Linked DNA regions of Homo sapiens. The gene in region 1 interacts genetically with each later gene. Each region holds a gene or a part of one and is shown on either strand. Other genes may lie near its edges.

Region 1 (3,500 bases):
TTTATGACAACCTTTATTAGGTAAAAAGTTTATGATAATATGATCAATTGAAACACTAAAAATTGTATTTTTTCCTAAAAGGTAGAGTTCCATTTCATGTCCAATTTTCCCAATTCAGAATAACAATTTTTTTTTTTTTTTTTTGAGACAGAGTTTTGCTCTTGTCACCCAGGCTGGAGTGCAGTGGCGCAATCTCGGCTCGCTGCAACCTTAGCCTCCCAGATTCAAGCAATTCTCCTGCCTCAACCTCCCGAGTAGCTGGGATTACAGGTGCCTGCCACCACACCGAGCTAATTTTTGTATTTTTAGTAGAGATGGGGTTTCACCAGGTTGGCCAGGCTAGTCTCGAATTCCTCACCTCAGGTGATCCGCCCGCCTTGGCCTCCCAAAGTGCTGGGATTACAGGCGTGAACCACCATGCCCAGCCTTAAAATATTTATTTATAAAGGTAGTTTTCTTATTACATTAAGTTCCCTAAACAGAAAGAAGAGATAACAAAACCATTTCATGGCTCTTACCTGTAAGTTAACCAAGGTTCCAAATCGACTAAAATGTTCATTAAGTTTGCTGATATTATTTAATTCTGGAGGAACTTTTCTAAGTTCAAGCTTGGTATTTTCATTTCCAAATTGAACCTTCTTCTGAAAGCCTGGGCTGTTTGTTCTATTAAAATTTGGTCTGCAAACAAAATTCAAGTTAGTCAATACATTTATAAATCCTGACCCTAACCAAATACAAGGGAATAAAGTTTAACAAAATAGATATCCAATTAAGTTCAATTTTCCCCCAAACTGAAATTACTGGTTGATAAAGGAAATTTAAATTTTCTTCCAACAATGAAGTTTCCAAATGAACACTGTTAGTATCTTTCATGGAAGCCAACTGAGAAGGGTTCTGCCATATCATTTGTTACTTTCCACTTCTGATCCACCTCTACTTAACATTCCTATCAGGAAAAGTCTCAATATCCTCTTTTAGTCAATTTGCATATATAACCTTTATTCTGATTCTGTAAAAGTCAGCTTACTAAAAAATATCCTATCTTAAAACTTTATGTTTTAAATTTGATTTTAAATTTTATTTTCTTTGATGACAGTCTCAACCTCTTTCCCGCTTTATTTAAAAAAAGAAAAAAAGAATTGTTGGAACTATAAAGAATACATTTTGACACTTGAAGAAAGGACAAAACTGTGGCCTAGAGAGGTTACTCTGCATTAAATCACAGAATTAATCACAAACAACTAGAAACTATCCATTATTAAGTAGATGTTAAAGCTCTAAAAGTGATCCTAGTCTCTCTTCACAGATTTATTTATAAATGAATCACCTCACACATATCTTAACATTCTGATTCCTTACCCCTTTATCTGAAGCTCTTTCTTGACCATTCAATGCCTAGACAGCCTCTCCAACCCCCACAAAAGCCCTTTCTAGCTCCTACCTAGCAGGAACTGCCTACATATGAAAGTCTCTTGACAGGTCTGATCTATACCTCCTTCCTCTAATGATGAGAGGCTCATGACTATCCTGTATATAGCTAGTATTCAACAGGTCTAAGTTAAAGAGTGGGTTTTTTGGAGGAGGGTAAATGATAAGAGGAAAAAATTATGCCCTGAACTACCACACCATTTCTGTAAGAAAATGCTTTTCTAACATCAGACAACTAACTTGCCAATTTTTAGAAAACTCACACTTGGGGATTGCTTACAGAACAGAGTAACATTTTTGGAAGAAACCAAACCATATTGTCATAATAATACAGAAATGATCCTGAAAATCAATGCACAATTATACTCCTCAATTTTCCTGGCCACCTTACTTATCAAACCAAGTCTTCTTTGTAGGAACTCCAGGCTCTCCAGAACCAATGGTTCTTTTCCTTGATTCTGAGTCCACTACTATCCTCATACTGCTTTTATTGGGAGGCTTTTCTGTTTTAAAACAAAAGAAAATGAAAAAAATAAGCATAGGTTAATATTTTCTATTTATCATAGATACCTTCCTCATACAGGAAAATTTCTGGCTTTTGTCTAAATATATATATATATATATAATTTTTTTTTTAGAAGAAATAGAAATAAATGTATAGTAGCTCCCCCTTATCCAGTTTCATTTTTACGATTTCAGTTATCTCTAGTCAACCACAGTCCAAAATTATGGAAAACTACAGAAATAGTAAACAATTCCTAAGTTTTAAACTGCCTGCAGTTCTGAGTAGTGTGATAAAATCTCACACCATCCTGCTCCAACACTTGATCTCATCATGTAGGCATTTTATCATCCCCTATCATCCCAAGAAGGGTAAATACAAAAAGATATTTGACAGAGAAAGACAGGGACCATTCACATAACTTTTATTATAGTATATTGTTATAATTATTTCATTTTATTATTAGACATTGTTGTTTAGCTCTTACTGTGTCTAATTTATAAGTGAAACTTTATCACAGGTGTGACTGTATAGGAAAAAGCATAGTATATGTAGGGTTTGGTACTCTGTGGTTTTACACACGAGGAGTCTTGGAACATATCACCCACAGACAAAGGGGAATTACTGTACATTCAAATACAGTAATCTAAGGGTTTTTTCAAACTTATTTCAACATATTCATTTCACAATTAACTATGAAAAAGAATCAATTCTCACATGCCAAATTAAAATGTGATTCTGTAGGTCACTTCTTTGTAGATAAAACCCAAGTCATTGTTCCCATCTACCATCACCCTCACCACAAATATATATATATATATCAATGCACAAATGAGAAAATAATCACTTTGAGGCTTTAAGTTCATAGTTTTGAAATCAAATGCACAATCTAAAAGATTCAAAACTTTACACTAATCCAATAATCTTTGAGAAGTGAAAGGTTAGAGTTATGATTGAAGTGAGCTGCTTTTAAATATGGAATAGACTCATAAAATATGAATGTAATGAAAGCATACTTGCTTTAAAAAAGGAAAAGATTCAAGTCTAAAATACAGTGTAAAAGAGCTGTAAAAGTCTGTTACTTTCAACATTTTATATTTACTTACATGGCATGTAATGAGCATAGTACATTTAACCTGTTATTCCCAAATGACTCCAAAGTTTAAAACATGCAAACCTTAATCCACATAGAAAAATGTAACTTAAAAACTCCTTTTTTATAGATGGCAAAATTGATTTGTCTAAAATCCTATTTTTACATATTTCTAAACACCTAACTAACCAAAAGAACTGAAGATCTGTTTCAGCACAATATCTCTCATGGCCACAGCTATGGTCTCCTGCAGGAGGAGAGCATATACTCAATTCTAAATTTTCAACTTCTTTGTTCTCTCTGGAAATCCTACAGGTATCTCAAAACTCACTATGCAGAACGTTCAAATTATTTTCATATTAAGTCTATCTTTTATTTTTCTTAAACATTTCTATTAATGAAACTACCATTTTCCCAATCATCCCAGTCAAGTCATATTTGATATATGACTACCCACATATGCCATACATACAGAGA
Region 2 (3,500 bases), on another chromosome or scaffold:
GGGTTCCAGTAGTTCCCCAGGGACTCTGGCAGCCAGAGAGAAATATAGGAATGGCTAGATGTAGAGTTCCCTGGAAGCAATGGACCTCAGTGACACCTTCACTCAGTTTGCCTCTTCTGCCTCTCTTGGTTGAGCCATAGTCAGCTTCAGAAACCTCACAGCCGGGCTGGGTGCAGTGGCTCACGCCTGTAATCCCAGCACTTTGGGAGGCCAAGGCGGGCGGATCACGAGGTCAGGAGATTGAGACCAGCCTGACCAATGTGGTGAAACCCAGTCTCTACTAAAAATATCAAATTAGCTGGGCATGGTGACGTGCGCCTGTAATCCCAGCTTCTTGGGAGGCTGAGGAAGGAGAATATCTTAAACCCAGGAGGCAGAGGTTGCAGTGAGCTGAGATTGCGCCACTGCACTCCAGCGTGGGCAACAGAGTGAAACTCCGCCTCAAAAAAAAAAAAAAAAAACTCATGGCCTACCCTGCTCTCATCTCCAGCTACTCAGCATAGAGCGACTAAACCTTTATGCTGCTTCCCTGCGAGTATGCTTCCTACTGTTTGAGAGCATGCGAGAGCACCTCAAGTTCCAAATGGAGGTGAGTTTCTTGATGTGGAAAGAAAAGGGGGAAAAAAAATAGGGAGATATATGGCATCTTCAGTGGGGCCAGCTCTATCATGCTACAGGGGTAGGATTTAGGGACTTCCTATAGGAGAGTCCTTTTAGCCTCCAGAGTTCGGTTCAATCAACTGGCCTCTTTTGTGGAAAAGTTAAAAGGAGACCAAAGGAAACTGGCTGACCCCAAATATGAGAACTGCCAGGTAACCTTACCATGAATAGGGACAGCTCTTCTGCCCAGCAGTTACTCTGCAACACAGGTAGGTAAGTCAAGCCAGCATTGTCACTAAATTGCTAAAAGGAACTCTAAATAGGACCAGGTCATGTTCACATAGCACAAAAGGGCAAGAGGCAACTTGTCTGGGACCAGGTATGTGGTAGAGAGCCAGGCCTTATCCCCCAACATGGAGGCCAAAGAAGAGATATATTTAGGGGATGGAATACCTTTGGGTGTCTCTTAATACATGCCTCTAGGCTGGGCTTCTGCATCCTGTTTAATGTTTTTCCTGTCTAATTTTTTCTCTTCCTATCTTGAATCCTTTCCCCACCCAAATGGCAATTACTGGGTTATTGCCAGATGTACATCAAAAAGCTTATGGAGATCATCACTGTGGAGAACCCCAAGATGCCTTATGAGATGAAGGAGATGGCACTGGAGGCCATTGTGCAGCTCTGGCGCATCCCCAGCTTTGTCACAGAGCTCTACATCAACTATGATTGTGACTACTACTGTTCCAACCTCTTTGAGGAACTCACAAAGCTGCTGTCCAAGGTGCTGAGCACTATAACTGGCTTCTAGGAAAAAACGCATTATAAAGGAAATCTCCCTGGTGGTAGTGAGGATGTTACATACAGAGAGGGGAACACTTGAGAGCTGGGAAATAGAAGAAAGGCATTTTCTTTTCTTTTCTTTTTTTTTTTTTTTTTTTTTTTTGAGATGGAGTCTCACTCTGTTGCCCAGGCTGGAGTGCAGTGGCGCGATCTCGGCTCACTGCAAGCTCCACCTCCCGGGTTCACACCATTCTCCTGCCTCAGCCTCCCGAGTAGCTGGGACTACAGGTGCCCACCACCACGCCCGGCTAATTTTTTGTATTTTTAGCAGAGACGGGGTTTCACCATGTTAGCCAGGATGGTCTCGATCTCCTGACCTTGTGATCCACCCGCCTCGGCCTCCCAAAGTGCTGGGATTACAGGCATGAGCCACCACGCCCGGCCAGAAAGACGTTTTCTAAGGGCAATGTACAAGTTAGAAGAAGTTTTGGAAATTTTAGAAAATGATCAAAGTGTAAAGTGTTCTCCTAACTACAAGTCCAATTGATCTGTTTACTTTCCAGAATGCCTTCCCTGTGTCTGGTCAACTCTATACAACACACCTACTATCTCTTGATGCCCTATTGACAGTGATTGACAGCACCGAGGCCCACTGCCAGGCTAAAGTCCTCAACAGCCTCACCCAGCAAGAGAAGAAGGAGACAGCCAGACCAAGCTGTGAGATAGTAGATGGCACCCGAGAAGCTAGCAATAGTGAGAGGCATTTCTTTCTTTGATGAACCCAGTGTTCTATGCTTATCCCTTCTCTACTCTCTGAGTCGTTTTTCCTGTCCCCATATCACTTCCCCTGGGATGCTCCCAATTCTGTTTCTGGGCTTTGGCAGTTTAAATCACAGGCCAGTCAGGCAGATTAGTAGAACTCATAGCCTTCTCCCTTTTTCCTCCTCCCCACTTTGGTTTTTTACAGAATTATTATTTCTTTATGGCAAGAGAAGAGAACAGAGATTAAAGAATATAGGATTTCTGTCTCTGAAAGCTCCAGGTCCCACCATCCCTCATCCCCAATATCTGCCTCCACTCTAATTAGTCCTCTCTAGCTCCCCCTTGAAATTTGAGGTTGCAGAAGATCAGGGAAAGTGACTGGGTAATCTCTTCATTAAATTAGAGAATCTAATGCTTGGCTGGGACAGGGACTACTTATTTTGGCTTGGGTTTGTCCTGCTCAGGGCTGGCGCCCTGTGCAGGAACCATGCAGGTCTTCTGGGCTTGGGATTTGATCTATCCTGCAGCTCTGCTTGGCTTCATACCCTATAAGTCTTCACGTATCTTCTTCTCTCTTACCAGCTGAGAGAACTGCCAGCGATGGGAAAGCTGTAGGCATGGCCTCAGACATCCCAGGCCTGCATCTGCCAGGTGGAGGGCGGCTGCCACCAGAACATGGGAAATCAGGATGCAGTGATCTGGAGGAAGCTGTTGACTCTGGGGGTGGGTACTGGGTGTCCATGACCCTAAGCTCCTCACCTGGAGGGCCTGGTGAAGAGCAGAGGGAGGGAGCAGACACCTAGGATAGTAACTAAGCAAGCCTTGGTAGCCCGCCTCGCCTTCAGACTCAGAGAGAGGGAAGCAAACATATGGACCCTCAGTTGATAGGACTTCCAGGGAAGTGGAAGACTGGTGAGGACAAGATTTCTGAGGCTCCTTCTTGAAACTGGGGAGTATATTGGTGACCTTCCAAAAGTCCTTATCTGGGTAAAAAAAGGTGTTACAGATATTTCCCCCCTCTTCTTCCTACTCCTAGCTGACAAAAAGTTTGCCCGGAAGCCACCCCGATTTTCCTGTCTCCTGCCAGATCCACGGGAACTAATTGAAATTAAAAACAAAAAGAAGGTACATACATGTATTCCCCAGCCTCTGTCCACCTCTGTCTGGGTGTCCAGTGTTGTAGGGTTTCCATCTCAGAAGATGAAGGAGAGTCTAGCACCTCATTGTACAGCTTCCTGAGGCCAGTCTTTGGGCTTGTTGGGACTTCAGCAACTCCCATTTGAAGCCCTTCCCTTACTCCTAAGCTATGTAGTTGAGCATACCCTATGTATGCCCCTGCGCAAATGCTGTACCAGTTG

What was found. Genes that interact genetically often act in the same process or in processes that back each other up.
Region 2: changes in RBM26 (region 1) and GBF1 together harm fitness more than expected from each alone (negative genetic interaction), as found in Homo sapiens cells (one study listed by BioGRID).

The regions. Positions count from the first base shown.
Region 1 is NC_000013.11:79,357,756-79,361,255, forward strand, and holds part of RBM26 (RNA-binding protein 26), read right to left. Parts: intron 1,932-3,500; coding exon 1,820-1,931; intron 679-1,819; coding exon 519-678; intron 1-518. UniProt on the Homo sapiens protein: May be involved in the turnover of nuclear polyadenylated (pA+) RNA.
Region 2 is NC_000010.11:102,360,532-102,364,031, forward strand, and holds part of GBF1 (Golgi-specific brefeldin A-resistance guanine nucleotide exchange factor 1), read left to right. Parts: intron 1-490; coding exon 491-589; intron 590-1,186; coding exon 1,187-1,381; intron 1,382-1,943; coding exon 1,944-2,133; intron 2,134-2,724; coding exon 2,725-2,865; intron 2,866-3,178; coding exon 3,179-3,267; intron 3,268-3,500. UniProt on the Homo sapiens protein: Guanine-nucleotide exchange factor (GEF) for members of the Arf family of small GTPases involved in trafficking in the early secretory pathway; its GEF activity initiates the coating of nascent vesicles via the localized generation of activated ARFs through replacement of GDP with GTP.